Regions from separate parts of the Homo sapiens genome. Here all the other regions are linked to region 1. The links come from fine-mapping of genetic effects on gene expression. A gene starts in region 1. Each other region holds a variant in brackets. All regions are shown on one strand. Distances are between the middles of the regions.

Region 1 (8,144 bases):
TGCCTACCACCACGCCCAGCTAATTTTAGTAGAGACGGGGTTTCACCCTGTTGGCCAGGCTGTTCTCGAGCTCCTGACCTGAGGTGATCCACCCGACTTGGCCTCCCAAAATACTGGGATTACAGGTGTGAGTCACAGGGCCCAGCCTGTTAGGCAAAGACTTCTGAGATATAACACCAAAAGCATAAGTGATAAAAGAAAAAAAAAGATAAATTAGATTTCATCAAATCCAAATCTTTACTGCTTCAAAAGACACTATTATTAAAGTTAAAAGACAACCCACAGAATGGGAGACAATATTTGTAAATCATTAATCTGATAAAGGACTTTAACCACAATATATAAAGAACAATTAAAAATCAGTAACATGGGGCTGGGCGTGGTGGCTCACGCCTGTAATCCCAGCACTTTGGGAGGCCGAGGTGGGCAAATCACGAGGTCAAGAGTTCAAGACCAGCCTGGCCAACATGGTGAAACCCTGTCTCTACTAAAAATACAAAAAATTAGCTGGGCATAGTAGTGGGCACCTGTAATCCCAGCTACTCAGGAGGCTGAGGCAGGAGAATCGCTTGAACCTAGGAGGCAGAGGTTGCAGTGAGCTGAGATCGAGCCACTGTACTCCAGCCCGGGTGACAGAGTGACACTCCGTGTCAAAAAAAAAAAAATTTATTAACATGGGCTGGCGCGATGGCTCATGCCTGTAATCCCAGCACTTTGGGAGGCCAAGGCAGGTGGATCACGAGTTCAGGAGTTCGAGACCTGCCTGGCCAACATGGTGAAGCCCCGTCTCTACTAAAAATACAAAAAATTAGCTGGGCGTGGTCGTGGGCACCTGTAATCCTAGCTACTCGGGAGGCTGAGGCAGAAGAATTGCTTGAACCCGGAAGGTGGACATTGCAGTGGGCCGAGATCGTGGCACTCTGCACTCCAGCCTGAGCGACAAAGCGAGACCCAGTCTCAAACAAACAAACAAACAAACAAAAACCAAAAAAACCAAAAAACAATCAGTAACAAGATGACAACTCAATTAAAAAAATAGGCAAAATATTTGAAAGACATTTTACAAAAGAAGATATATGGATAGTCAACAAGCACATGAAAAGATGCTTCATATCGTCAGTCATCAGGAAAATGCAAATGAAAGCTGTAATAAGATACCACTTAAAATCCAGCTGAATGACTACAATGAATAAGACAGATCATAAGGAGTGTTGGTGAGGATGTGGACAAATTGGAACCCTCATACACTCTGGTGGAAATGTAAAATGGGAAATTCACCTTGGAAAGCAGTTGTGCAACACCTTGAAAAGTTACACCCAGAGTTACCATATGACAGTAATTCCACTCGTAGATATACACCCAAGAAAACTGAAAACACACGTTCATACAAAAACTTGTACCCATCTTCATAGCAGCATTATTCATAATGCTAAATACTGTACTGTATTTACTGTAATACAATTACAATTAGTACAATTAAACACTATATTTAAATACTAGAAGAAATCCAAATGTCTGTTAATTGGTACTGTTAAATAAAATGTGGATTATTACTTAGCAATAAAAAGGAATGAAGTAATGAGACATACTACAACATGGATGAACCTCAAAAACATTATGCTAAGTAAAAGAAACTAGATGCAAAGGATCGCATAATGTGTAATTCCACTTACATGCCCAGAAAAGGTAAATTTATAGACAGAAAGTTTTTTAGTGATTGGGGCTGGGGATAGGAAACCAGGACTTGCCTGCAAATGGGCACAAAGTATTTTTTTAGGATGATGAAAATTTTCTAAATTTTCTAGGATGATGAAAATTTTCTAAATTTTCTAGGATGATGAAAATTTTCTAAATTTTCTAGGATGATGAAAATTTTCTAAAATTGGAATGTGGTGATGGTTGTGATTTTCTAAAACAATCATTGAGTTATATCCTTAAGACAAATGAACTTTATAATATATAAATTATACTTCATTAAAGCTGTTAAAAATAGCTATGAAACCACAACGCAGTTTTATGTGTAATTCTGGTTTTTATACATATTATGACAAGACTTTTATAAAGACGGGGCAACCATGACTCCCCAAGACAGTGTGGCAGCGGTCCCCAAAAATCTTAAAGAAGTAAACTCAATGCTTTCGAAGACTACAAAGAAGTGCATCAAAATTTATATTATTCAACAATGATAAGGTAAATGTATTCGGGTAAGAAGCATGGTTACTAACCTGTGTGCCAGTATTTACACAGCATGGGGCCCCTTAGCTTCTGGTCTCTGCTCTGGTCTAGCCATCTTAAATTCCACTGTCAGTTTTATTGTCTTCAAATATTACTTTCATAAGGGGTGCCTCCTGTTCCAAACACAGGACCCAAACCCCTGATTTTGGGAATTCCGGCTCTTTATATTTCTCATGCTGCTTTTTAAAATTTGTAACCAAAGTTTCCAAATGAACCTTCTGCCGCAGTCAGAACCAACTCTTCCTCAGGCTGCATGTATTTGCTAACAACTCACTCACTAGTAGGGATGCCACTTCCCTTATTTTTCTCTCTGAAATTCTGCCCATTGCTCAGGCCCAAATTGAGTCTTACCCATACTGTGAAGCCTTCTCTGAATAATTCATCTCACATTGAGCTGAGCTCCTGAAGCACCTGTGCTCTACAACAGTCATCCGGGCATTAAGAACTGTTCAGAAGTTTTAGTTTAAATGTTCTGAGCCTCATTTGTCCCTGCTCTTGAGGGGCTGGATTTTATTACTTTATATTCCCCTATATGGATTAACACAGGCAACTTAAGAAATAGTCATGTTCATCAACGTTTCCTTGATAAATTCTTTTGTATTTGTTTTAATTAAAAATGTCATTTTTGAAATATGATTGCTGGATTTTTTTGAGAATTTACCCTTACATGCTGATTCTGCTTCAGGTATCTGTAGTATGTTTTGTTCAGCCATTAGCAGATCTGTCCCTGGAATCCCTAATCCACAAATATACACAAAATTTGGGTTCAAGCAACTCTATTTTCTCCTATATCTTTTAATAGATATATTATCTATTATGCCAGGTATGACAATATATAAACAAAAATATCCATATAAAAATTACAATATTACTAAATGTCCTTCTAAATCCACACTTAAGCAACAATAACGAAGCACAGTTTCTTAAAGTAGAAAATGATCTATAGTTAATCTTATTATCTTGCCTCCTTTACCTTTCAAAAATCCACTGATAATCTGGGCATGATGCTTTCAAACTTCACCCTAAAGAGAAAAATGCTCTCTGAACACTCTTCTTCCTGCTGTCTTTAAATTGTGCCTGTATTTTCTCTGCTTTTCCTTTGACACTCAATCACTCCTTTAAAACTTGTAAAAAACCGGAAAAGTTTCTGTAACTCTCCAATCTCCAACTATGTCGTAAAATCCCTTGCCAGTTTACCCAGTCTGCTGGAGAGGCTCACCGTTTCTTTTTCGAGCGAATTACACAGTTGTCTTGGCAGCGTGATTTGCCCTCTGGTTCCTGCTTTATCAGTTTGGTGATTCTTTGTACAGATTGATAACCATGAAAAAGTCTAAAGTAGGGCAGTTCCGGAGCAGCCTTTTCCCATAAAGCAAGCGGGTACCTCACAAAACTCCAGGCAAAAGAATGAATGATAGAGCACTCACCAATAGCGAGTGGAGAAGAGTATTTTGTCGAAGTTTGCAAACCAATCTTTGGGAGCCAGAGGTGGGAATTTTAAAATGAGGTCTTTTCCTTGGAATTTTCTTAAAGTGGTATCGTTGCCTGTTGATATTGAAGTTTGTCAAAGAACGTGAAATCACCAGCTTAGAGGATTTTTTTCCCCTTTAAGAGAGACAAAACGTGCGAATTGATTCTCTACAAATTGTGAGAACTTCAAGAGTGGGGTCATAAAGTATTATCAAATATAATCACTTGGTAACTTTTGTGTCAATGTGGGGAGGAGGTGAAGGTTATTTTAACATGATTCATTTTTCATGATCAAATATCAGATATTAATCACTGAAAAACAGTATTCCCCATTAAAAAAAAGAAATGAAAACTAAGAGGCTAACATTGTTTTCAAAAAACTGTTCTACTGTTAATCTTTTTTCTTTTTTGGGGGGTGTAACTCTTCATATATTAGCAGCAAGTCTTATTATTTGGGCTGACCATTAAACACCGTATCTTTGTTTTTACACAAAATGTGGATTTCCTCATTTTAAGACCAGCAAAAAATTTCTGAGTGCCACGAATTCTTAGGTATTCCGAAACTATCTTAGAAATACATGACATATACCAACCATGCTGTATACCTGAATAGCTCTTGAAGACCAGATTTAATAGATAACTGATAATTTTTATTATAACTCATACCTTGTTTTAAAACCAATGTTTTTTATTTAATATAACTCTGCTTTCTAGGTTATTCGTCTCTATGAATAATTAAGTCAGCAACTGTAAAAACTACTTCATTATAAAGTTAAAGTTCCTTGACAAGGAGCCTCGCAAACTCATAGACAGGCTTTCCACAGAACAAAAAATATCAGCGGTTGTAGTAGAGGATTATACTTTAAAATCTTCATTTCAGAAGGAAATTTGTCATATTAATGAGACACTTTAAAAAGTGTCTTTTAAAAATGTTTCCGAACTATGCTTCCAAGTATTTTTAACAGCATAAAGCCCTCTTTCATGCTATTTCGCTGACATAATAATTTTCGTCTTGAAGAAATACATATTGACGGCCTACTCAGTCAGGCTAGGAAGTGTCATTGTATTTAACTCTCTAAATTGTTCCTGACCTTTTTAGCAATCTTTACTCAAAATAAACCTTGGGTGTTTGAAGGGCAGAGACTAGGTTACGTCCTCCTCATCTTTGTTATCTACCAGTTCGTAGTGACCCCTTAAATCCGGTGCTTAGACTCACTACTTGCTAAATAACGTTGGCTTCGTTACATAAACCCACTGGCCTGTTTTTCAACGGTCAGACTGGCGCTGTTAGTCCCTGTGTCATGGGATTGCTGTCAAGGGTTCAACGAGATAATCTATAAACAGCTCTTAGAACGAACGCTCAACGTGGGATCATTGTTGTAATCCCTCAACGTGTGCTCTGAATGAGAAGCCGAGTGACTGAATGAATGTATGAATGAAGGAACAGGTCAGTAACTGGCGGTTCCCGAAGTTGGAGCCGACTAAATTACCCCTTCAAGACGCTAAGCAAAAGCCACTCCGTCGACATCAAACCCCACGCCGGAGCCGGAAGCAAGAGTAGAGCCGCGGGCGGGGCCAGCATAGAGGAAGTAGCGCTCTCGGCCAATACACAGATCGCTTGGCAAACGAGCATTTTCCCGCGCCTATCGTGAAAGCGCGAGAACACAGGGGATTATCGCGAGGTTCCGTGCTCCTCTCCCGCTCCCTCTTCCCCAGCTCCCTCTGGCGCGGGTTCCGCTCCACCCCCGGAGCCCCGCCCCCGACGCCCGGCGCTCCGCCCCGCCCTCGCCTGGCTCCCTGCCCCGCCCCGCCCGCCGTCCCCCGCTTGGCTTCCAGCGCCGCTTGCGCTCCGGAGCGCTGGCTCTGCTGGCGCTGAGGTGAGTAGAGCTGTCCGCCTCGTCGGGTGATTCAAGTGGCGAGGCTCTCTGACCCGGCCCCCCGGCGGGGACGCCCCAGACGTGGTCCTGCCAAAGCGTCCGGGTCGCGGCGAGTGGGACAGCGGAGCCGTCCGGGCCTCGGGTGGCCACAGCTGCCGGGTCCTCCTCCCACTCTGCGGCCCGCGGCCCCTGGGACCCGAGAACCCTGATACCGGGTCCGTGAAATCCCTGCTGCTGGGCTCGCTGCTTCCCAACTGTAACGATCTCAGTGGCTGGCTAACTCGGGCGAAACGGCGTGTGTTTTGCCTAAGACTCTGCCAGTGTTTGTTACCACAGCTGAGAAAATAGCCTTTTACAAATGCTTTTAATATGTAGCTTATAGTTCTCTAATCTCCAGCGTTAGGAAATTGGAATGCGTATTCTACTAAATTGAGTACGGGGAGGTCAGTATAAGGGACTCCTTCCTTTCAAAATACTCCTTAATATGTGTGGAATTTTGTTGAGAGGTTTTTGATTTTTTTGTTTTGTTTTTAATAATAAGATAGATTGGTGTTCACCTGTCAGAAAGCTCGTGTGTAAGTGCAGCTGTATACAGCTGATATTAAGTAATACTATTTGCCTTAACTACATAAGAGGTAGTATAACTATACAAGAGGTAGTTTGCTTAACTAGGTAAGATGTAGTCAAGTGAAATGGGGTAAGAAAATTACCTTGTTAAAGGCTGTGTATGGCCCGTGAATGCATACTGCAAAACTGTGAGCATTGTTGATGCTTTATTGCTATTATTGGCAGTTTTAGGATTTCATTTGTTTAGATTTTATCTCCCAAACAGCCTTTGTAGCAATTTTAACAGAGTGTAATGGTGTTTTTGAGGCAGCCAATCCCAGCCAGAACATTCAGAAGGAAAGCCGTCAGGTTACAGGGACTGTCTTATTGAATCTTCCTTCAGTGAGTGTGGTTTTGCATTATAGGGCGGCGGTGCACACGCTTTGTAGTCAGTCCACCTGCGATGGAACTATGGCATGTTACCCTCTGAGAAACTCAGTTTCCTCCTCTACAAAACGGGCTACATAATGTCTATTGCAGTGCATGGTTGTAAAGATTAGACATCCTTGTGGCATGTAGCAAGCTTATAGGCTCTATCCGTGGTCTTGACATAGTTGGATGAAAAATCAACCTTGCAATGTTCTTCCACATGTCATCAGATATTAGAAGGCCTACTTTAAAATTTTAAGTCCCTGGATACATGTGCAGAATATGCCGGTTTGTTACATAGGTAAACGTGTGCCATGGTGATTTGCTGCACCTGTCAACCCATCACCTAGGTTTTAGGAAGGGTTACTTTTAGTTACTGTGCTAGATGCAGGTATGCAAGCGTGAAGAAAACAACGCAGTCCCTGCCCTCAGGATTTCTAAATAAGTTTCGGAAGGGTTTATTTACAGGCTTTTTGGCTTTATTGACAATAGACAGATGCAACGATAAATATTTAAGTGACAAATTGTGAGGAGTCCTACGAAGAAAAAACAAACAGCCAAGTTCCTCTGAAAGAACACCAGGGGAATTACTTTGGGATAGGGAAGTGATTTTTTTTTTTTTAAGACTGAGTCTCGCTCTGTCGCTCAGGTTGGAGTGCAGTGGTGCGATCTCGGTTTACTGCAAGCTCCGCCTCCCGGTTTCAAGAGATTCTCCTGCCTCAGTCTCCCGAGTAGCTGGGATTACAGGCGCCCGCCACCAAACCCAGCTAATTTTTGTATTTTTAGTAGAGATGGGGTTTCGCCAAGTTGGCCAGGCTGGTCTCGAACTCCTCACCTCAGGTGATCCACCCTCCTCGGCCTCCCAAAGTGCTAGGATTACAGGCGTGAGCCACTGCGCCCGGTCTCAGGAAGTAATTTTTATGTTGAAATCTGGAGAATGATGGGACATTGCTTTCTAGGCTAAGAGGAGACCAGCAAGTGCTGTTAGGGGTTTAGTAGCTTTGAGGATTGGAAAAGCCCAGAAGCTTGGTGAGAAGCCAAGCAGAGTTGCTGGAGAAGTGGGTGGGGGCAGATGGTGAGGCACCCTCAAGGCCTAGTATGAGTTGATTTTCTAAGTAAGAAGTTTCTGAAGGGTTTATTTAGTAAGATGTGTACCGAAAAGAGTGAGATGTAATTGGATGTACATTTTTAAAGGCCCATTGCTGGGATTAATGTGTTGGAAGTGACTAGAGTGGACACAGGGAGACTGGTAATACTGTTGGCCAGGCAGGAGATGACTGTGGCTTGTGGTTTTGGCAGATGGAGAGATTTGGATGGATTTGAGATGTATTTGGGAGATAGAGGCCACTAGCCTTGTGATAGATTGGAGGTGGTCAGAATATGAAAGGATGGAATCATTCATGACTTCCTGCTTCTCCGGCTTGAGCCACTGGGTGGATGGAGGGGTGAGCCATTTACTGAGATGGGAAAAACTGTGGAGATTCGGATTGATGATGAAAATGGAAAGCTCTTTGAATGTGTTAAGTTTGAGATGGTTGTGAGACATCTAAACTGCTAACAGTTTCCTAGTTCAGTGAATAATTACCTATG
Region 2 (8,144 bases), 970 kb before region 1:
ACAGAATAGCAGGAGGGAGGCAGGAGCACTCTGGGACAGCACCCAGGACTCTGAGAGAGGAGGCCCTGCCCTTGGGCCTTAGAGACGTGAAACTGAGTGAAGGTTGACGTTTCCTCATCCCTAGAAAAGCACAAAGGGACCCTGGGCTTCAGCCACGTCCTTCCATTTCAGCAGCTGTGTTAGGAAAGTAACTACCCAACCCTTGATATTTTTAAAAAATCAAATATAAAAATAAATTTTAAAAAGATGAATTGACTAACCTTTTCTCATTATAGAAAAGGGAGAGACACTTTGCCATGGGTAGTAAAGTATGATTAAGTGTAAAGCATTAGAGACAGAGAGGCCTGAATTTGGGTCTGCCACTGTGTTAAATTGAGCAAGTTATTTTTACCTTTTACCTCTTTTCCTGATTTGTGAACTGTATATAGTTGGGAGAATTGTTGTGAGGATAAGATGACATGATGTGTGTAAAGTCTTTAGCACATATTAAATGCTCAGAAGAAAATAGCCAGTAAATGGTACTTGATATGCTGTTATCATTAGCAATTATAGGAGCATGAGTTCATTTAAAAAAGCGGAACTGGCATTGACTGGATGGAATAAGTGCTATTGTTAGGAACAATATTAATATCATATATTCAATTGAAAAATATTGCTCTGTGGTCAGCGCCGTGTGTAAAACAACACACTTCGTTTCCCTCACACTTCCCTGACTCATCTCTGGCTTAGCATGTGTGAGTGAGATGACACTCACCGCACCTCCACCAGAGAAGAGAAGACCTTTTCTCCACAACGTTTATCAGAGCAAGACTAGATGGGATAAAGTGATCTGGTCTTCTGGGAAAGTGAACGGAATATATTTCATAAATAAATAGCAACTTTTGGTTTTCTTATTAAAATCAAAATATTCATTTTTGAAGTTTGATGAAATATCCAAGTATACCCCTTAACATATTCTTACACATCCAAAGAAAAAGTGAAAAGAGCGATCCCCTAAATCTTTCGATCACTTAATTTCACAGACTGGAATGTTTCTCAACACTTTGATTTTGAAGTGAGCAATCACTAATGGGCTGGATCAGAGGGACAAGAAACAGTTCAATCATCTCTAGGGATTGTCATAATAATAATAACTAGATGTTCATCATTGTAGAAGGACATCCTCTTTCCAATAGAATGATCTCTGCATTTTTCATATGACTATTTTATAATTGTTTTCATGCTAGACTGTTATAGTTTATTATATAATGATAATAATAATATAACCAGAAATTGAAAGGAAAGAGGGAAATACACATATACACGTACGAGACTGTGAACAGCTTTATTGCCCGATTATTTTTGCCACCTCCAAAACCTTAATAATCTTTTAGACGCAATGCTTGTCTCTAGAAAATGTTCTTAAGCATTTGACAGATGCTAATGCATTTTTTGCTAACAAGAGCAGATAATAAAATGAAATAATAAGTAGCCAGTTAATTTACCAAAAAAAAAACCTCAGAAATATTAATTCCTAGAAGGTGTTGGGAGTCGCAAAATTTCATGTACATCAAACAGACTCACTTTCTCTTAGTACAAACCTTTCCAGTCGGCTGGAATTACATATGTGAATATTATTCACACATAATATGTGAATAATACATTTCTGCTCCCTTGGCCTGACCTAGTGGAAAATCTTTAACCATTGAGCTTCTTTATGCAGGGACATTTCTACCTGAGCACTCTGGGTAGGATACACTTCTTTTCTCCACACCTGACCCCCTTGTGGTCACAGGGAGGTACGTATGGAAATGGTGCTGGCAGCAGGTAGACACCTTCCCCACATACCCTATCTTCTCTCTTCTTCCCCCCCTACTCCAGGCATCGTGGGGTGGGCGGATAAAGAGCAACCCAGGTGGATGGAGAGTGAAGCTAGGCTGGCTGGGGGGGTATCCCCGTGGGATTTCCTGACTCATGATAAAACAGTGGCACACAGAGGAACACACCCAGCCCTGCAAATATATCACAGTACCTTTGTTTTAGTCCAACTTTGGATGGAGTCTTCGGCTCTCAACTTTATGCCAGTGTTGTAAATTTAATTTACAACCTCAGAAAATGAAAATTCAATCATTACATGTGAAACCTCACTTGACTAAACTATCCTAGTCTATTTAACTTAATGGGCAACATATTTTCATGAGAAACAGCAGACAATCTATTAAAGTGACCTTAGAGATTTAAAGGGCATTAAAGGGCATTAAAATAGCAATGCTGCATCTGATTTTTTTTATTTTTTTATTTTTTTTTTATTTTTTTTTGAGACAGAGTCTCACTCTGTCACCCAGGCTGGAGTGCAGTGGCGCGATCTCGGCTCACTGCAAGCTCCGCCTCCCAGGTTCACGCCATTCTCCTGCCTCAGCCTCCTGAGTAGCTGGGACTACAGGCGCCCGCCACCACGCCTGGCTAATTTTTTGTTTTTTAGTAGAGACGGGGTTTCACCATGTTAGCCAGGATGGTCTTGATCTCCAGACCTCGTGATCCACCTGCCTTGGCCTCCCAAAGTGCTGGGATTACAGGTGTGAGCCACTGCGCCTGGCCTGCATCTGATTTTTTTTAACTTTCCAATTGGAATTTGTTTTTCACTGGAAAGGGAAGAAATTCTCTTTTCTTTTATTTCTTCTTTCTTTCTTTTTTTATTTTTCTTGTATTTTTATTATTTGTTTCTATAAAACAAATAGCTTTTTAGCATGCAGGACTCAAAATTTATGAAAACTTAAAAGACCTACCAACAGTCTGGTCTACTACTGATAAGTGGAAAGGAACAAGGAGACCCAGCACGCTCGGAGTCACATTCCGGCCTACCACCTTCAGATACAGGCTGTTATGGTCCTCTCTGTATCTGAATTTGTTTTCTTTTTTTTTTTTAATGTATTTATTTGTTTTATTTTAGATTCAAGGGATACACAGGTAGGTTTGTTACATGGATATATTGCATGATGCTGAGGTTTGGGCTTCTATTAAACTCATCATCCAAATTGTGAACATAGTCCCCAATAGGTGGTTTTTCAATCCCCACCTCCCTTTCTTCCCCCTTTTGAAGATCCCAGTGTCTATTGTTCCCATCTTTATGTCCATGTGTACCCGATGCTTAGCTCCCACTTGCAAGTGAGAACATGCAATATTTGGTTCTCTGTGTCCATGTTAACTCACTTAGGGTAGTGGCCTCCAGTTGCATCCATGTTGCTGCAAAGGACATGATATCATTCTTTTTTATGGCTGCAGAGTATTCCGTCGTGTATATGTACCATCTTTTCTTTATCCAGTCCACCACTGATGGACACCCAGGTTGGTTCCATGTGTTTGCTATTGTGATTAGTGTTGTGTTGGTATCTGAATTTCTAACACAAGCACAGAGCAGTTTGTGCAAGTCAGTGAACAGCATTTCTCTTTTGGATCCTCCAGCCATCATCCAAAGTCACAGTGCAACTCTGGACAAAGGCACAACATCTCTGAGCTGTTGTTTCCTCATCTGTGAAACAGGGGAAAGAGTCTCTACATGAGGCATTATAGGGAGGATTAAACAAAACACCATAATAAAAAGCATGCAGCACAGTTCCTGGCATTCTGCAGAAACTCCATACATAGTTATTAATGACTCCTCCTTGTCTTAAATAGGAGGGATGAGAACAAACACCTTGCTTTGTCCCAGTCTTAACCATGATGTCATTTGCAGATTTTCCTTAGTTAGCTAGATTCTTCTTTGACAATGTGGGAGCTAACATCTCACTATCTTATAAGATTGTTGTAAGATCCAAACAAAACAATGTGTGAGAGAACTTTATAAGCTATAGATTATTCTATGTCAGCTGTTGGCATTCATTGAATCACAAAAAAACTAAGGAACAAAACAAAAAAGAAAAGTACAGCACAGTCTGTGAAAAAGGATTGCCAAAATGACACATTTCAAAGATACACATTGAGAACACAGTTATTGTTTTTACTAATTAATAAAGTGGACATATTTCCTCCATTTGTGATGATACTATCCTTTTCAAAATTGATGATCCATTCAAAGCCAAACGCTTTTACATAAACTTAATATATTTTTGTTTATCAAAGACTGTTGTCATTCTTAAAAGTTACTTTTTATCAATCCTCCTCTACAGGATAAACTTTCAGGCAAGCTCAGAGTTCATTGGTTTTGGGATATCCCTTACCCTTTCTCTTTATCAGACAGTTGATGATACATTAGCCTCTGAGTGTGGTCTGCTCAGAAAGAAAGGGTGCCATAGTCCTGGACCTGGACTTTAAAACTAGGAGTGCTCTCTCTCTCTTTATGTCTCTTTCTTAAGGCTGCATTTATATCTCATCAGAGCAACATTCAAACCTGCCCACACGTAGGAATTTGGTGTTTTCTACTCTCTTACCGCCCTGGCGAAATTTTAATTTCAAATCTATGTATTTTTTCCCTTCTTATATAGTTGGAAAGAAAAAGCTCTTCTTCCCTTAGAAGAAGGGGAGAAAATCTCTTTGATGTTCAAATTTTCATTTGTGATTCAGAAACCTCCCTGCCCACAACAGTAATTGTAAACTCAAAGAGAAACTTGTTTGATAGGGTTTTGTGTGTGCGTGCGCG[T/TGC]GCGTGTGTGTGTGTGTGTGTGTGTGTGTGTGTGTGGAGAGAGAAACCTTTTTTAAATGATCAAACACGGATATAAAACCACTATAATTAGCTGGTTCAACACCGCACCATCCAAGTGGTGCTTGCTTTGAATTTTCAACCATCATAAGGCCGTGTCTTCATGGCTTTATACAATTACCCATTTTCACTAAAATAGGCTGCCTTGATCATTATTTCTGTGTAATCCATAAAATTAGTTGTGCCATTACTATGGTTGTTAACAATAAAGCATGCTAATTGGTGGTTGCAATCCAGAAATTTGTAGCTGGCTTAAACCAGGCACAAAAGGATGGAAGAGCCACAGTCCTGATGCAACCAGGACAAAGTGTGATGAGGCAGTAAAGGGAGGTGAGTGGAGCTTATGTCTTAACAGGAACAGATACTTCTGCTGTACTTGCCAAGGGAGCTGTGTCCTGCCTGGGACGGAGCCAGGTTCAATCTGTCCAAAAGCCCTCCTACTGCCATGGCGGAGCCCCAGAAGCAAGCCCAGATTTGCACTAGAGGTGACAACACAGGAGACTGAAAGAGGTTCAGTGGACACATCAGATAGGCTGATGAAAGCTGGAGTTCTGAATGGAACCAGGACAGACCTGGAGCCCCACCAGGAACTGGAACTCAAGAGGGACTCACAGTTGATAACAGAACCAGCCTCCAGTGCATTAGCACGTGGGGGCCCCATACTGGCCAGCTCCACATTTGTTGAGTGGGATTTAGTCTATTTTCTGGAGTAATAATTAGAAAGCCCCAAATTGCTTTCAGGTGTTGACCAAAATAAGCATTTGGGCCATCTGTCAACTGAGTCAGCGTTTTACAAAGCAAAACCCCCTTTAGAAGGGTTTCCAAACTCAGGCCGAGTCCTCTTGGGAGGTTTCCTAAGTTTCACAGGCATTCACACTAAAAGTTTCCTCCACATTCCGAACGGTAGCAACCGTGGTGTCATCTGGGCCTATTTCATCCTCAGCGAAGAGTCAGATAGGAAATTATGGGAAATCATCTTTCTCTTAAGTGCCTCAAAAAACGACTGTGCAGGGGATCTGCAGTGGGCTGAATGTTTGCGCCCACCCCCAAATTCATATGCTGAAATCCTAACCCCCAAGGTGATGGTACTAGAAGGTGGGGCCATTGAGTGGGGATTAGACCACAACAGTAGAGCCATCGTGATGGGTTAGTGCCCTTACAAAAGGGACACCAGAGAGCTCTCTCATTTTGCCATCATGTGAGGATACCAGAAGAAGACAGCAATCTGCATCCTGGAAGACAGGGAGCCCTCCCCAGAACCTGACCATGCCAGCAGCACCCTGATCTCAGACTTCCAGCTTCCAGAACTGAGAGAAATAAATGTTTGTTGTTTGTAAGCCGCCCAGTCTGTGACACTCTGTTTTTGTCAGCCTGACTCAGATGAGACGTAGGCAGTTCTAGAGTGGAGACAAGGCACCACCTCCAGGAGCAGCACAGCACACTGCCAAGGCAAGCTCTGGAATGGCCCCACGGCCAATGGATATGGCTGCCTCTGCAGCCTCCCAGATGGTGGCAAGAAGAAGACAGGCAGGCTGAGGTCGCTACAATTAGGTGGAGGCAAGGGAGGTCGAACAGGAACCCACGTGAGCCCATGAATGGCTCTACGGCAGCCAGGAGGACAGTTTGTAGGGAAGCGCCATCGGGTTCTATCCAGCTGTAAACCCCCATCAACCTGGAATGAGCCAGAAGAGACTTAGCAAAACTGAGTGGAGCTGGGAGATAGATAAATATATCGGGGGATAGAATCAGAATCCAAATGTGAGTGTCCATAGAGATTGTCATAATCGCACACAATGAGTCTAAAATGTGGATGAACATACAGCTCTTCACTTGCATGTAGAAGTCAGGGCTCAATCCTAGGAAGGGAATTGGAGGAGGAATGTGATTTCTTACAAAGAGGATGCATCAAAAAGACTCGGGTTCTGAAGTGAACAGAAAACCTCATCATGCCATTTCCTACTTAAAAGGGCTTGGCAACAGTGCAAGGCAGAACCCTGGCCACGATTCACAGGCCCTCTCAAGACCAGGCCGGCTCCAGCATCTGGCCTCCTCCTAACCTCCTCTGGCCTTGCTCTCTCATCCAGTCCCTCCTATCCAGGACATCCAGTCATTCACTGGCACACCACGCCCTTCCTCGCCTTCGGGTTTTGGGTGTGCTGTTCCCTCTCTAGGTGCACTTGCCACACCCCCTTCCCACTCCTGCTCTACCTGGTGAGCAACTGTGCAGCCTATAGGGCTCGACTTCAATGCTTCTTCCTCAGGGGGCTTCTCCCCACAACAGAACTAGATATGAGCCCATAGCCTATGTATTAATATAATCCCATCAATGTCTGGCCTCACCTTTCCTAACACAGTGATTCCTCCATCCAAGTGGATCTTCCTCATCACACTGTGAACTCTCTGCAGGTAAGGGCCACATCTGTCTTGCCCACCGTGCTATCCCTCGTGCCCAGCACATCATAGGACCCGATTAATAGTGACTAGAAATCAACACTGATGGTTAGTGTGATGTAGCTGCCAAAGAAATCAAAATGGTCTTGAGATGCATTAATAAAGCTAATTAACCTAAAGAGCTTCTGCACAGCAAAAGAAACCACCATCAGAGTGAACAGGCAACCTACAGAAAGGGAGAAAATTTTTGCAATCTACTCATCTGACAAAGGAATCTACAATGAACTCAAACAAATTTACAAGAAAAAAACAAACAACCCCATCAAAAAGTGGGCAAAGGATATGAACAGACTCTTCTCAGAAGAAGACATTTATGTAGCCAAAAGACACATGAAAAAATGCTCATCATCACTGGCCATCAGAGAAATACAAATCAAAACCACAATGATACTGTCTCACACCAGTTAGAATGGCGATCATTAAAAAGTCAGGAAACAACAGGTGCTGGAGAGGATGTGGAGAAATAGGAACACTTTTATACTGTTGGTGGGACTGTAAACTTGTTCAACCATTGTGGAAGTCAGTGTGGCGATTCCTCAGGGATCTAGAACTAGAAATACCATTTGACCCAGCCATCCCATTACTGGGTATATACCCAAAGGATTATAAATCATGCTGCTATAAAGACACATGCACATGTATGTTTATTGCAGCTCTATTCACGATAGCAAAGACTTGGAACCAACCCAAATGTCCAACAATGATAAACTGGATTAAGCAAATGTGGCACATATACACCATGGAATACTATGCAGCCATAAAAAATGATGAGTTCGTGTCCTTTGTAGGGACATGGATGAAGCTGGAAACCGTCATTCTCAGCAAACTATCGAAAGGACAAAAAACCAAACACCGCGTGTTCTCACCCATAGGTGGGAATTGAACAATGAGAACACATGGACACAGGAAGGGGAACATCACACACCGGGTCCTGTTGTGGGGTGGGGGTGGGGGGAGGGATAGCATTAGGAGATACACCTAATGTTAAATGACGAGTTAATGGGTACGGCACACCAGCATG
Region 3 (8,144 bases), 140 kb after region 1:
TTATACTAATTTTCTATCTAGTATATCAGTTGCTGAGAGTAAGGTATTGAAGTCCCCAATTCTATTTTTGGATTTATCTATTTCTCCTTTCATCTCTCTTATTTCTTAACAGCTTTATTGAGATAATTCACGTATCATACAATTTCACCCATTTAAAGTATACAACTCAGTGTTTCTTAGTACATTCAGCGATATGCGCAACCCTCACCCTAATCCATTTCAGAACATTTTCTCACCCATACGGAAACCCTGAACATTTAGCTCTTGCCCCTGTCCCTCTGTCCCCATCATACCTAGCCCTAGGCTTATCTACTTTCTGTCTCTGTAGATTTTCCTGTCTCTGGCCTTTGGCTTGGGGGCATGGGCTTTACTTGGAGCCAATTGCATCTGTGCCTGTTACTGATTCTGGATTGGAGGCTTCTACAGCATCCTATTTAAGATATAGAGGGCAATAAGGTACCCAGGGAACGTGCCAGCACTGCGTTGTTCCTCAAGTCCCACTGTCCCTAGGCTGTCTGCCTTGGTTCTCCCTTTCAAAGCTTGCCTGTGCTTATTTGTTGTATTTTGTCCAGAGTGTTTCAGGTGGAGGGGGGAAGACCTGGGAAGAATGGGGCCTACCCCATCTTGGCAGAACCAGAAGTTCCACCTAAATATATTTTCCCCCAAAATCCAGAGGGATCCACCAAGTGTGTGTCTGTTTCTCTGTAGTGGGCAGTTCTGGATACAACTCTTCTTTTCCATTTGAAACTGCACTGATGTAGTAGGCATATGAACTCTTGCAGGATTTTTCTCTCTCACCTCTGATAATCGTATATCTATGAAGGCATCAAGGGTGCTTGCTACTTCCAGTTTGTATTCCCCCTTGCAAATACATTTAGGCTTAGGGAAGAAAAAGACTTCTTGGCCCTCCTGGAGATTTTCAGGAGGTGGCTGAGCAGGGTCCGCCACCCTGGGTCCTCTCTGCATTCCCATTTATCCTCCCTCTAGAATCTGCAAGGGGAGTCTAGCATAGCTGTCTCATTAGCTGTTGGCCTGCAATGAGTCAAGGCTTCTGTTAACCATTCCCAGGTGCTTAATGTATCATATTCTGAGGTATAGGTGAAGTACCCCTGTTGGCCTGATCCAATCTTACATTCATTCTTGCTGGCCAATGTACTTAGAATCCGTTTCCATGCGTGCCCTCCAGGTTCCTGCTAATATAATTTGACAAGATCCTGCAACTCCATCAGCGTGTATGTGATTTCCTCCAGGAGTAGACCTTTCAATGATCTCTGGATCATGCTAGGATTTTACCCTTTTTGGCCCTAGAGGCGATGAGTATTGATGGTGGTGGGTCCTGAAAAGTTTTTAGGTAACCACCCCAGGGGAAGCCATTGAAACATTTTTACCCAAGGGAATGCTAGTTTTCGTAGAAGGTGGAAAGGTCTGTTTCTGATATGAAGAAATGTTTAGAGATGCTAGGGAGTCAAGGCTCTTAGATTTGTGCCTGTCTAGAGGCTCCCATATCAAGTCTCAAGTTCCCACTCTTTCTCAACAGCACCTTTTACCTTAGCATAAGAGACTTAGCATAAATATATCTTTATCTGGCATGTGATCCTGAAACCTCTACATTTAGCCTCAGCCATGTCCCTTGCAGCTTCATAAAATAAGGATTCACTTAAGGCCACCATAAAAACTTTCTGATTCTCTGTCCATGCCTTGAGTTGAGATCTCAAGGCACTAAGCTTATTGTTTTCGTTTCAGAATCTCTTCAGCACAGTCAAAAGAAGCCATCTCACCCCACAAACTTGGAATCACCGTGATGCCATAGCAGTCAAGTGCCACAGCCACTTGCTTTCCCAATGCCTTTCCCTCCTGTTACCTTCTGTTCCAGTGATATTTGAGTAACCATGATGCCACCACATGCTACAGATTAGCAGGGTCCCACTTCTCTCTAGTAAGAAAGCCATTCGTGTACTCGCCAGCCCAACTTCAGAATCTCACTTGGATGAGCTGCTTCGTTGGGCCACTTCTCATAACACATACTGTATTCATCAGGGCTGGAAAACAAAATGCACATTTGGCTGAGACTTTGAAGAGAAATTAATGAAGAAGGACAATTGGCTGAAGTTTGGGCAGGGTGGAGAGCACCCAGAAGGATACTGAGGCACGCAGGGACTCACAGCAGTAGGAAGCCCTTACCATGCTTAATCCTTGGGCCTGAAGGGCAAAGGGAGCTCTCTCTGGAGCCTGGCGAGAACCAGAGGTAGCAAAGGGGGCCTGCCTGATAGGAGCTCCAGTCCCAGAGGTAGAGAGGGAGTGGGGTGGAAATACTCAACCTTCCTTCTTCCTGCCCTTCAGCCCCCTGCTGGTGCCTCCTGCTGGTGCCTCTCGCTGGCCTAACCAGAAGCTAGAGTTGAGGCAACTTTGCTGGTAAAGTCTACAGAGGTCCCCTTCCTGGGCCACAGGGAAAGGCGGACTGTGTTGGGGGTGAGGAAATAGAAAACAATCAGCACAGGGGGTCTTGTGGAAACAACAAGAGAGTCTTCTCCCTCTACCAGAGGATAGCACTTCTGGCAGGAAAACAAGGCATCTAATAGCTGGAGCTGTCCAGAGTGGGTCAGAGGCCCCCTGGGGCTCATGACTCACGCACAAAGGTGCCCAAACCTCTGATATGTGGGAAGACCTTTGAACTGTATTATTCAGATTCTGAAATGACCTCTACGAGCAACCTATGTGTATGCGTACATTTGTAGGATAAATTCCTTAAAATTATGTTGTTTAAGCTCTGTGGTATATATGTGTTCTGGCTAAATTGGAGACATTTTCTGTTACATGATTTTTATAATGGACTTCAATTCTGTGATTGCGTTGTTGGTTCTAGAAAGCAGAGTTCGAAACGTAATGTGGAAAAGGCATTTGTTTTTTTTTTTTTTCTTAGTTTCTACTTTAGGGATAATATATCTTCTGAACGCTGCTATTAAAATGAACATTCAAAAAATAAATAAATAAAATGAACATTCACATGTACATACTTCACCTGATTCCAGTGCTCAGTTTGAAAAGGAAATTTAAATTTCTATTATGCAGTTTGTTGACCATGGCTAATCCTCCATTTTAACAAAGAAAAAAGTTTCCAGCAGAAAGAATCAGAGACTTTAATCTTGAACTCACAGCGTTCTTCTCTCCCTTTTTCCCCTTCCAGGAAGACAACTGTTAGTTTTGTGGCTTACTGCTGCTCCACCCAGTGTCTGCAGACTTTTGACCTGCTGAGTTGATAAACACTCAAGAACCTCAGGAGCGCTGCCAGCTTGACACTGGGGAATCCAGCCAGTCCAGCACACTCTTCCATCCTGTCCTGTCCAATGCGGGGGCACTGCAGAACTCTCTAGAAATGTCATGATTGAGCTTCAGAGCTAAAATGCCTTCACCCTTCCCCCAAGTTGGAATATATCCTCCCCCAAATTAAGGACCCATTTGTCTTCTGTGTTTTTCCTTTTTATGTGAGTGTGTCTTTTACAGAAACCATTTAGATTG[A/T]TGGGCCTCCCCAAATCTAATTTAAAGCAAGTTTCCGGTCCTTGGAGAACAGTGACTTGATCATCTAGCCAGATTCCCTTTTGAACACACATACCTTCAGTGATGCTTCCTCTCCTCTCCCCTCCCTTGCTTTCCCCAGAGAGTTATTTCCCTGAGACCATGTTCTCCACAGTGTCTCCAGTGGAAACTTGTCAGTTTTTGAGGAGTTTCAGCAAACCCCGTGGCCTCAATGGTCTTGAGTAGCAGGGTGGGGCGCCTGAGTTGGCAGCAAAGTGAGGCTCCCATGGAGGCTCAGTGAGGGTCCCAGAGCACACACCCTCTGGAAAGTTCCAGCCTTGTTTATACGTTCTACAGTGTAGCAACAGACTTTTGTGAGGGATTTTAAAAACAAAAATGTAGATTGTAATGAAATACACTTCCTGTTTTTTAAAAGTGTTTGCAGAAAAATGATTTTTGAAGTTTTTAAATTTCCTGATAAGATTTTTTTTATATGAGAAGAATTTGAGGAATATTTGAAGCTTTACAAGATCTGATTTTTTTCTTTCTCAATATAAAGTTTCCATACAATGAGAAAGGGGGAGAAAACACACATTGAAATAAGACCTCCGTGTTCTTTTTTGATGGGTTTATGATTCAGTTTATACTGACTTTGAAATATTTTTGTCACATGTGAAAGGCTTCAGCTACTTCCACTACTGGTTTTTTTTTGTTGTTGTTGAGACGGAGTCTCGCTCTGTCGCCCAGGCTGGAGTGCAGTGGCGGGATCTCGGCTCACTGCAAGCTCCGCCTCCCGGGTTCACGCCATTCTCCTGCCTCAGCCTCCCAAGTAGCTGGGACCACAGGCGCCCGCCACCACGCCCGGCTAATTTTTTGTATTTTTAGTAGAGACGGGGTTTCACCGTGTTAGCCGGGATGGTCTCGATCTCCTGACCTCGTGATCCGCACGCCTCGGCCTCCCAAAGTGCTGGGATTACAGGCGTGAGCCACCGCGCCCGGCCCACTACTGGTTTTTAACAGGATGATTCAAAGTACAGCCCGTGCACATTTACTTCGTCACCTGGTGCACCACACTGTCTTCATGTTGGCCCTCGTTTCTTGTATACTTAGCTTACTGCCCAGATGCAACTGAGAAAATACAGGAAAAGCAGGTCCAAATTCAGCCTTCGACTTCTGCAAAAGTCCATAAACAGAAAGTCTGTGAGCCTCCACCCTGCCAGAAAGAACTCTTCATGAAGAAGTCACGTATTTGCTCTTCCTTTCAAAGGATGGCATTTTAATGTTGCTTTGCTGCCAGATGTTCATCTGCTTGCTGTGAAGTGATTCTTTTTTTAAAATGTTTTTTAATGATGTAAGTTTTCTAAAAGGCAGGGCTGAATGGAGAACCAAGAATTTGCTTGGTAGAAAAATTATTTTTTTTTAATTTCAGACTTATCAAAAATTTGGTTGAGGGAATTTTTATTAGCTGCCCTGACTTTATAATGCTACGCTCTTAACAGTGCCAAAAATCCTACATAGTTACTGACAAATGTGTGATCTTTTTACAGTCACAACACCTGCTGCCCGGAAAGCACACCGTCCACGTAGAATGGAGAAGGCAGAAAGTTACCGTGTGTTCCCACTGTATCTGCACTGTTCTTACTTCCTCTTGTCCCTTTTCATATCTTGGTCTATTCAGCCTTAACATTTCAAAGGCTTATAGTAAAATAGGAACTGAAGATCTGTATCAAAATGTAACACTTTCATCCTTTGGAATAATTGAAGTTTAACATAACCTCTACATGTATATAAGTTAGCTGGTGAAAATGTGGCATGAAACTTCACAATTGTGCTTCAGGCCTAAGTGACTGCTACCTATGATTTAAGTGACAGTAAATGTCTTGCTACATTTTTCTATTTCATCCTCTACAATCATATGTCATGGAATGGAGCTATGAAATGTGCTAACTTGGTATTCAGGATTCTCATTGTGATAAGGTGATACATTAGTTTTACCTTGTTTGAAATTTTACAAAAATGCTTACAATCCAGGCATTCTTTCTCTACCTATTATGAACTACGGTGTGTTAAACAACAGCAGTGGGCTGGGCAGACAACCTTTGGGCAGTCTCAACCTTAATCCTTGGGTACAGCACCTGAACTTAATTGATGAGAAGTGGAACTTAAGTGGTTTCCCTGGTGCTGTTCATTATGGAAATTTTATGCTGGATTTATCGATGTCATTCTTAATCTTTTGATACTATAAAGGAGTCTTACCAACTGGAGAAAATTTGCCTACATGCTATATATTTGAATTGTGTCCAAAGCTTTGCAGAAAAGCAAATCTGAAGTTATTATATATGTTGTTTTCTTGAGCAACAGTTACACTAGGTAGAAAAGTATTCACACAATAATAGTAATGCAAAAAAAGTGAGCTACTTGGAAAGTATCATCTCTGTTCAGGTAAGTTTACTTCAGTGAACTCTTGTGTGGTTAGCGATAAGTTTTAAAGTCCAGGATAGCCTCATGAGCATAGGCCTTCCTATGAAGTAGTGCAAAGGGGGCCGATTTTAGTGGATTACCCTATCAGTGTTCTTCAGTATGTCCAATTGTTATCATACCAAAAACCTTAATTACATAACATTGTGTGGATGAAATGCTGCATCTTCAGTTAATACATGTTTTGAGCACATTCTTAAAATACATAATAATTAAATGATCCCTATTCAAAAGAACCCTGGCTTGGGTGGAGGATCCACTCTGGCTAACGGATAAGAGTGATGAACTTCTTTGTTACCTGACCCTTCTCTTCTGGAAAAGTGAGGTGTACATTAAACATCTTTTGGTCACCGTGCCTCACTAAGACCTTTCACATTCCAGCTTGTCCGACTAGTGTAATGTACCTCTCACTTCTGTTTTACGTTGAGCATTACGAATTAAAATCTTTACAGTCTAGGGGGAAAAAAAGGCTTCAATACCAGTTGGCTTATGAGGCTCTGCATATAATTTTCTCTAAAATATGTAACTATTTTGTAGTCTGTGGGGACTTTCAAAGCCAATTTTTAAAATTAGTAGTAGTAAAGGTTTTTCCCTTTCCTGAATGAAAAATCAGAAATTCTAATCTTTGCTATAAAGTACTTAAACACAATACATTGCCTCAGCATAAATAAAAACATTTTTATTAAGATGATTTATGAACATGGATTTCTAACTGGACCAACACTAATGTTGCAACCTGATAAAATTTGAGATGTAAATTCATTTCACAGACTCATAAACACACTCTCTTTAAGACTCTTCTTTAAATGGATCCTTACATTACCCTGCCTGTTTTATTATGCCTTCATTTTTGTGGTTTTCATTCACTCCTGCTTGCTTCTATTGAGGTTCTCCTACATTTCCCAGAAACTCAGTGAATATCTTGCCTTTTCTTCAAACAAAGGGGGTTTTTATAAAGTTTGTATTTTTGAAACTAGCTCTATGTCTATCTAAAAATCAAGTCTCGGCAGTGGCTCATGCCTATAATCCCAGCACTTTGGGAGGCCGAGGAGGGCAGATCATCTGAGGTCAGGAGTTTGAGACCAGCCTGGCCAGCATGGTGAAACCCCATCTCTACTAAAAATACAAAAAATTAGCCAGGCGTGGTGGCGCGCACCTGCAGTCCCAGCTACTCGGGAGGCTGAGGCAGGAGAATTGCTTGAACCCGGCAGGAAGAGGTTGCATTGAGCTGAGATCACGCCATTACACTCCAGCCTGGGCAACAGAGCGAGACTCCGTCTCAAAAAAAAATCATTCAAGTTTCACTGTGCCTACAGTGAGGAGCTACCTCCTTGTGTCATCAGCTAATAGATCTGAAAGTGATGCCGGTGTCTCTAGGAAAGGAATTGATCATAGCCAAGTGACTGACATTCTCTCGGTCAGGAAAAGAGCTTGCTTCACAGCCTTTGAAGTATGACTGTATGTGTGGTCCCCTTGTACTTTGGAGACAGAAGGTACTGGCAGCGAGTGTGGTGGATGGGCAGAAGGTGTAGCATTCGGAGATTATTTCTGTATGTAATTAAGAGACTTTCAAGGGTTAGCCAGACTTTTTTCCACTCAAGTGTGGATTATCTTTGCTACCTGTGTTAAAGAATATCAGGTTTTGTTTCTTATTGTGATTTTTGAGTCTAAATGATCCAAGATTTTTAAAATAGATACATAATGAAATCCAGGCCTCTGAAAAATTATGGCAACATTCATTTGGAGTGTGGCTAAAAACTCATACTTTATCCAATTTGGTTGCCTCTCTCAGTTACTGCAGTTTATAGAATAATTGAGCTTGAACCATGTGAATGCTCAGAATGTCAATGGTGGAGTATTTATTCAAGAGAAATGGCTGAATCTCGATACGAACAACGAGTTTTGTGGTGTTTTAACTTGCCCTATTCCTATCTCCCCCTTCCGTCTCTGTTGTATCCTTGAAAACCAACAGTATACAATGAAGGTGAAAAGTAGCAGCCTGGAAGCCACTAGAGGGGGCAGAATGGGGTTAGAACTCCTTCAAAGCCTCATTCCCAGAGAATTGTCATTATTTGACCTGGCAGGCAGGTCCCTGGAAGACCTCATTTGCAAGACTGTCTTTATTTTACCGGATTGGAGCTTGCCAGGTGTGA
Region 4 (8,000 bases), 31 kb after region 1:
ACACCCGTAAACCCTTCACCTAAATTTAACCAATTTTGACATTTTGCAACATTTGCTTTCTCTTTCCCTTTTCTACCTGTCTCCTACCCCTCTGCCCCCTCCCCCAAGCTGAATGATTTGAAGGTAAATTACAGACATAATGTCATTATCACACCTAAGGAAAGTAATATTCAATATAATTTAATACACAGTTCATGTTTAAATTATGCAAGTTTTCAAAAATAATGTATTTTAAAAGTAGATGTCTGAATTTACTGTATTATTTGCTCTTGATTAGATTGATTTAAACATTTTTTGTGGTGTTTGACCCCAAAACTTGCTTTATCAAGTTTTTGCTTTCATCCTTTTGTATGTATGTATATGTGTATTTATTATTTTCTGAAGCTTTTGTGAGTTATGCACATCATGGCTTTTTCTTTGTCTCTAAATAAGTATGTATTTCTAGGAACAAAGATGTCTTTCCATCTTTTTAGTCTACTTTTGCATCCTTTAGGTACTTTATAGTTTTCTTTAAAATAGGTTTTGAAGATTTCTAAAGTCTGTTACTAAGTATTTAATCTTTTTTTACTATCGTAAATGAATTTTGTCATGTTATATCTTCTAACTGGTTGTATTTTGTATATATGAACAATATTGATTTTTGCGTGTTAACTTTATATCCTGGTATCTTGCTGAAATCTTTATTGTTTCAATTAGTTTTCATGATAGATTCTCTATAGAGTTTTCCAGGTATACTCTTATGTTGGAAAATACAGATAGTGTTACTTATTCTTTTCCAGCTGTTATCCCTTTAATTACTTTCTTTAGTCTTATTGCATTGGCTCGTTCCTCTAGACAATGTGAAAGTGTCCTGGAGAGAGTGGACATCCTTGTCTTCTTTCTTTTTTAAAAAAAAATTTTTTAAGACCGAATTTCACTCTTGTCACCCAGGCTGGAGTGCAGTGGCACAATCTTGGCTCACTGCAACCTCTGCCTCCCAGGTTCAAGCAATTCTCCTGCCTCAGCCTCCTAGTAGCTGGGATTACAGGCATCCGCCACCACGCCTGGCTAATTTTTGTATTTTTAGTAGAGACGGGGTTTCACCATCTTGGCCAGGCTGGCTTCAAACTCCTGACCTTGTGATCCACCTGCCTTGGCCTCCCAAAGTGCTGGGATTACAGGCGTGAGCCACTGCACCTGGTCCCTTGTCTTCTTTCTGATCTTGCTGGGAATGCCTCTAGGGTTTCCCCATTAAGAAAGATGCTGGCTTTACAGTTAAAGTGTCTGTAGTCTATTGTGTTAAGCAAATATTCACCTTTTTAATTATCTATTGCTGCTTAACAACTTACCCCCAAATGTAGTGATTTAAAAGAATAAACATTCAGTGTCTTGTATTTTCTGAGGCCCCAGAATCTGTGCCTGACTTAGCTGGGTGCCTTTGCCTCCAGGTCTCTTACGAAGCTGCAGTCAAGGTTGTTGGCCAGGACTGCAGTCTCATCTGAAGATTTAACTGAAGAAGGATCTTCCTCTATTCACGTGGTTGTTGTCAGGTTCAATTCCTTGTAGGCTGTTGAACTGAAGGACTCCATTTCTTGCTTGATGTTGGCTAGAGCACTTCCCTCATTTCCTTGCCATTTGGCCTTTCTGTAGGATAGTTCACAACATAGCAACTGTCTTCCATCAGAGCAAGCAAGCCAAAGAGCAAGAGAGAGTATACACTTTCCCACAATCCCTGGTAATCACTAATGTACTTTCCGTCTCTATGGATACACGTTTTTCTGGATGTTTTATATTAGTGGAATGAGACAATATGTGACCTTTTGTATCTGGCTGCATTAACATAGCATAATGTTTTCAAGGTTTATTCATGTTGTAGCAGGTATCAGAATTAATTCCTTTTTATGGCTGAATAATATTCCGTTGAATAGATACATGACTTTTTGTTTATCTGTTCATCAGTTGATAGACATTTGAGTGGTTTCCACATTTTGAAAGCTTTTCCTTTTACAGTTTGTGGTTTGTCAGTTGTTTGTTACAACTGTTTCAAGCAGCTGTGAAGTTAAACAATTGCCTGTAATTTGTTTCAGTTTACAGTGGTTTTTGCCCTGGGCAATCTGCTACTCAGACGGAATAAAGACAGCCTTGCAACTGGGTCTTCCAGGGAACCTTGAGACAAATCTTTGACAGTTCTCTGAGAAGGAAGCTTTGAAGGCACTCTAACGTGGTCCTACCCCCTTGCTACTGCTTTTCTCTTTGATTGTGAACTGTTGGTTTTTCAGGCTTCTGCAGAGCAGGAGAGTGGGGTTAGGACTAGAGCAAGCGAAAATACCATGAAGCCTACAACCCACGGTTCTTACTGACGCTCAGTCATTTTTTTCTTGGATAAATTCTCCCTGTATTATGGTAAGCCTTAGGTTCATTTCCAGAGTTCTCAACATGTAGCATTTGGACATTTCTGACAGTTTCTCATTGTTTTTATGGAAGAGAATTTTTGGAGGTTCTTACTCTACCACTGTTGCTCAAAATTTTTAGTTTTGTAAAAAACTGCCGGTTTACCAGATTAGCTGTTCCATTTTACATTTCCCCTGGCAATGTATGATTGTTCCAGCGTCCGCACATCTTACCAGCATTTGGTGTTGTCTTTGTTATTTTAGTCATTTGGATAGATATGTGGTTTTTATGACATTGGAATTTCCATTTGTATTTCTAGAATGACTAATGATATTGAACATCCTTTTGTATACTAATTTGTCATTGGCATCTTTTTTTGGTGAAATGCCTGTCCATGTCTATTGCTCATCTTCTGATTGTATTTTTTTTAATTTCTGAGTTTTAAGAGTTCTTTGTAAACTAGTTTTCTGTTCTATATGTTGTTTACAAATATTCTCTCCCAGTGTATAGCTTGTGTTTTCATCCTGTTTATGTTCTTTTGCAGAGCAAAAGTTTTACATTTTGATGAGGTCCAGTTTATCATTTTTTGCTTTGATGTGTCATGCTTTTGATGGCAAGTCTAAAAACTCTGTGTCTAGCCCTAGGTCCCAAAGACTCTCTCCTTTCCCCGCCCCCACCCCAAAGTCTTACAGTTTTTTATTGTACATTTATCACCTATATTTTTAAAATTTTTTTCTGGGATTAGAATTCTTAGTGACCATTTTTTTTGTTGTTGTTGTTATCAGCACGTTCATGATATTCATTATTCCCTGGCGTGCATAGTTTCTGAAGAAACATCTACAGTTGTTATATTTGTTCCTTTGTGTGTATGTGTCTTTTTCTCCCTTGGGCTACTTTGAAGGGTTTTCATTTTTTACACTAATTTTAAGGGTTTGATTTAGGTGTATCTTGTTGTAGTTTTCTTCTTTCTTACCTTTGAGGTTCATGGGGTTTCTTGGGGTTGTGTCTTAACAGTTTTTATCAAATTTGGAAAACTTTTGACATTGTTTTTTCAGATATTTATTTATATACCCTGTTCCTGGCCCCTGCTTGTGGAACTCTTACCTGTTTGTTA[G/C]ACTGTTTAATACTGTCTCGTAGTCACTAAGACTTTTCATTTCCTTTTCAGACTTTTATTCCCTATGTGCTTCAGTTTGGACAAATTGTATGTTCTGTGTTAAAAGTCAGTAATATTTTCTTCTTCAGTGTCTAATGTACTATACTAATCCCACTCAGTGAAGTTTTCTCTTTGGTTACTGTATTTTTTTTTTTTTAAGGGACAGGGTCTTGCTCTGTCGCCCAGGCTGGAGTGCAGTGGCTCTATCCTAGCTCGTTGCAGCCTTGAACTCCTGGGCTCAAGGGATCCTCCCATCTCAGCCTCCCAAGTAGCTAGAAGTACAGGCATGCACCACCATGCCCAGCTAAATTTTAAATTTTTTCATAGACATGGGGATTTGCTGTGTTGCCCAGGCTGGCTTTCTGTGTGTGTTTTTGAGACAGGGTCTTACATTGTCACCCAGGAGTTACACTGGAGTGTTGTGATGCAATCATGGCTCACTGTAACATCAAACTCCTGGGCTCAAGTGATCCTCCTGCCTCAGCCTCCCAAAGCTCTGGGATTATGGGAGTGAGCCACTGTGCCCAGCCTGTTACTGTATTTATGATATTTGGAAGTTCTGTTTATTTTTCTTTATCTTACAGTTCTTATAATGTTCATATTTTCATTTAAATAGCTGAATATAGTTATTATAGCTATTTTAATGTCCTGTTTGCTAATTCTGTCATCTGTGTCATACTGGTTCTATTTGTACTGACTGATTTTTCTCCTGGTTATGGGTCATATTTTCCTGATTCTTGGCATGTCTAATACTTTTTGATTGGATGGACCTTATAAAGTTTGCATTTTTGAGAGTCTAAATTTTATTGTGTCCCTTTTTTCTGGCATGCAGCTATTTGCAGTTTACTTTGATCCTTTTATGGCTTATTTTTATACTTTGTTAGGATAGGTGGTTAGGTTAGCCCTATTACTAAAGCATGAGCTTTCCAGGATCTCTCTTGAATACCTCAAATGATCAACAAGGATTTGGCATACTTGCTCAGAACTTGAATGTCTCTCAACACTGTGAGCTTTGCAGGCTGTTCAGCTGATTGATTTTCAGGTGCTTTTTGCCTGGAGTACCTTTTATTTTTCTTCTATTATTTTTTGAGATGGGGGTCCCATTATATTGCTCAGGCTGGTCTTGAATTCTTGTCCTCAAGTGATCCTCCTGCTTCAGCCTCCCAAGTAGCTAGGGTTACAGGTATGACCCATGACCCACTGTATCCTGTTAGAGTTTTTCTTATGTGTGTTTGTTCTAGAATTCAGCTATGAGTGAGGCCAAGGGATTCCTTATGCAAATTTTTGGAGGTTTTTTTTTTTTTTGTAGCAGTAGCTCTCTCTTCTTCAGAACTTTACCCCACAACTTCCAGTTGCCTCAGGTTCCCTGAACTCTGATATGTGTCTCCATAACTCAGTAAGACTTCTGTACTTTGGGATTTCCTTCCTGTTCTACAGTCCAGAATTTGCCCCTAGGGTGAAAGCTAGGGAGATTGTGTGGCTTACTTCCTTTCTCTTAGGGAATGTAGTCCTAGTTGCCTTTGTTAATATCTGAAAATAATTGTTTCATGTACAGTCATGCACAGCATAATTATGTCAATGACAGGCCACATACATAATGGTGGTCTCATAAGATTATAATACTGTGTTTTTACTGTACCTTTTCTATGTTTACATATGTTTAGATACACAAATACATCGTGTATCAGTTGTCTGATTGTGTTACAGTTGTCTACAGTATTCAATACGATAACATACTGTCCAGATTTGTAGCCTAAGAGCAACTACACCTTGTAACCTAGGTGTGTGGTAGGCTATACCATCTAGGTTTGTGTAAGAACACCCTATGATGTTTGCATAACAAGGAAATCACCTAACGACACATTTCTTAGAACATATCCCAGTCATTAAGTGGCATGTGACTGTATTTCATCTGGTTTTCTTGTTGTTTAGAACAGTTGGGAAAATCCCATTTACTCCATTGTTGTTATTCATCCTGACTGAAAGTAGAAGTCCTGTTTCTTTAATTAAAAATTTTTTTTTTTGAGATGGAATTTCGCTCTTGTCGCTCAGGCTGGAGTCAGTGGCAACATCTCAGTGCACTGCAACCTCCGCCTCCTGGGTTCAAGAGATTCTTCTGCCTCAGCCTCCCAGGTAGCTGGGATTACAGGCATGTGCCACCATGCCCAGCTAATTTTTGTAGTTTTAGTAGAGACGAGGTTTCTCCATGTTGGTCAGGTTGGTCTCAAACTCCTCACCTAAGGTGATCCACCCACTTCGGCCTCCCAAAGTGCTGGGATTACAGGCGTGAGCCACCACACCCAAACTAAAAATTATTTTTTAAAACTTTTTTTATTTTGGAACAATTTTATATTTATAGAAAAGTTATAAACATAGTATGGGTCATACTGGTGTACCCCTTACCCAGTTTGTCCTGTTGTTAACATCTTAGAATTCCATGGTACAGGCCAGGCATGGTGGCTCATGCCTGTAATCCCAGCACTTTGGGAGGCCGAGGTGGGTGGATCACGAGGTCAGGAGTTTGAGACCAGCTGGACCAACATGCTGAAACCCCATCTCTACTGAAAATACAAAAAAAAATTAGCCGGGTGTGGTGGTGCGCACCTGTAATCCCAGCTACTCAGGAGGCTGAGGCAGGAGAATCACTTGTACCCAGGAGGCAGAGGTTGCAGTGAGCAGAGATCGAGCCACGGCACTCTAGCCTGGACGACAGAGGGAGACTCCTTCTCAAAAAAAAAAAAAAAAAAAAGGAATTCCATGGTACATTTGTCAAAACTAAGAAACTGACTCTGGAATATTCCTATTAAGTAAACATCATATTTAACATTTAAAAAAAACTGCCAAGCCATTTTCCAAAATGAGTATACCCCAAAGTGACATTCCCCACCAACAATGAATGAGAGTTCCTGCATTATTTGAGAAGAGGAACATTTTATTTTAATAAGAACATTGAAACATCAACATTTCAACTACTCTGAAATTACCAAAATTAAGTAAAAGGAAGTGACTTAAATTTGAAAGTCCTAAGCCTGTGATTACAAATGACTCATAATAACTATAATAACAATAATAAGAGCATTCATTTAACTCTTACCAGGAGCCAAGCACTGTTCTAAGAGCTTTACATTTATTAATTCATTTAGTCCCTGCAACATCACAGATTAGGAGAGAGAGCAGTTCAGTGATTTCTCCATAGTCACATGGCTATTAAGGTGCAGGTAGTGTGGCTTCAGAGCCCGCTCTCTGATCCACTTTACCAGTAATGGTTCTTAATCGGTTGTACATCAGGATTATTTGAGTTGAGATGGTGTTTCACTTGCTGCAGGATGGTTTTGGGTACCAATAAGACCCCTGGTGATTCTAATGTGCAGTCAGGATTGGCAACACTCTGTTATCTTTTTTTAAAGATACATTTATTCAGCGTCATGATCACACTACTATATTTAGCAATCAACAGCATGAGTGCAAAAAAAAAAATCTACATTAAAACCCTTTGTTGGACTGCTTTACACTTTCCACAGAACAGAAACTAAAATAATACAGTTATTCACAAATACAGTCCTCGAGTTTTTTGCCCATATACATGAGTATTTGTCTAAACCATGTCTTCTTTGTAGCAGGTAGGCCCTGCCACCACTGTGCTTGGCTGAGTTCACAAAACTGTTGTAACCTGTAGCTTCCCTGTCACTTCTCTTGCTCTCCTTTCCTGCTAAGCTTTGTTTCCTGGCAGTAATTAAAATCTTCTGACACTGCCATAGCTGCTGCTGCTACTGGAACTGGCATAGCCACTTTGGTTTCATGGTTTGGCCAAGTATTGGACTCCACCCCCATAGGAGCCAGAGCTTCTGCCACCATTGTCCTCCCTTCATGGGTTCAAAATTTGAAGACTGACTATTGCAATTGTCAAAATCATTGTAGCTTCCACCACTTCCAGAATTGCTTCCATCATTACCAAATCCATTGTAGCCATCCCCACTGCCACCATATCTACCATCACCATGGCTGCCACCAAACCCATCATGACTGCTGAAGTTTCCTCCACGACCAAAGTTGTCATTCCCATCAAAACCACCTCCACGACCACCATCAAAATTTCCAGAATCACTTCAGCCTCTTTGGCTGGATGAAGCACTAGCCATCTCTTGGCTTTGATGGGGCTTTCCTGACTTCACAGTTGTGGCCATTCACATTATGGTATTTCTGAGTGACAGTCTTATCCACGAAGTCATGGTCATCAAAGGTTACAAAATCAAAGCCCCTTTTCTTGTCACTGCCTCAGTCAGTCATGATTTCAATCACTTCAATTTTTCCATACTGTTCAAAATAATCTTAGGTAATGTTCTTCAGTGTCTTCTTTAATGTCATCAACAAATATCTTTTTCACAGTTAAGTAGGCACCTGGTCTTTGAGAATCTTCTCTTGAGACAGCTGTCTTTAGTCCCACAACTCTTCTGTCCACCTTGTGTGGCTTTGCATT

What was found. PIP is the estimated chance that this variant, and not a neighbour inherited with it, causes the effect.
Region 2: its variant is fine-mapped to the expression of TTC23 in iPS cells (HipSci, PIP 0.95).
Region 3: its variant is fine-mapped to the expression of TTC23 in esophagus mucosa (GTEx, PIP 0.98).
Region 4: its variant is fine-mapped to the expression of TTC23 in monocytes (TOPMed, PIP above 0.99).

What each region holds. Positions count from the first base shown.
Region 1 is chr15:99,245,963-99,254,106 of GRCh38, forward strand. It overlaps TTC23 (tetratricopeptide repeat domain 23), which reads right to left and starts at 3,619. Exons shown (of 14, transcript NM_001288615.3): 1 at 3,209-3,619. LRRC28 (leucine rich repeat containing 28) reads left to right here and starts at 5,519. Exons shown (of 10, transcript NM_144598.5): 1 at 5,519-5,579. RefSeq lists an enhancer at 4,994-5,043 and a silencer at 5,294-5,833.
Region 2 is chr15:98,270,998-98,279,141 of GRCh38, forward strand. No RefSeq gene overlaps it. Among named protein-coding and RNA genes, the nearest start is that of LINC02351, 150 kb to the right of the region's middle. The variant T/TGC (reference allele first, on the strand shown) is at 4,616.
Region 3 is chr15:99,382,846-99,390,989 of GRCh38, forward strand. LRRC28 (leucine rich repeat containing 28) reads left to right here. Exons shown (of 10, transcript NM_144598.5): 10 at 3,185-7,884. The coding sequence ends at 3,257. Among named protein-coding and RNA genes, the nearest start is that of LINC02244, 16 kb to the right of the region's middle. The variant A/T (reference allele first, on the strand shown) is at 3,517.
Region 4 is chr15:99,277,364-99,285,363 of GRCh38, forward strand. The region is part of intron 3 of LRRC28 (leucine rich repeat containing 28); the gene reads left to right. It also overlaps the pseudogene HNRNPA1P62. Among named protein-coding and RNA genes, the nearest start is that of LRRC28, 30 kb to the left of the region's middle. The variant G/C (reference allele first, on the strand shown) is at 3,485.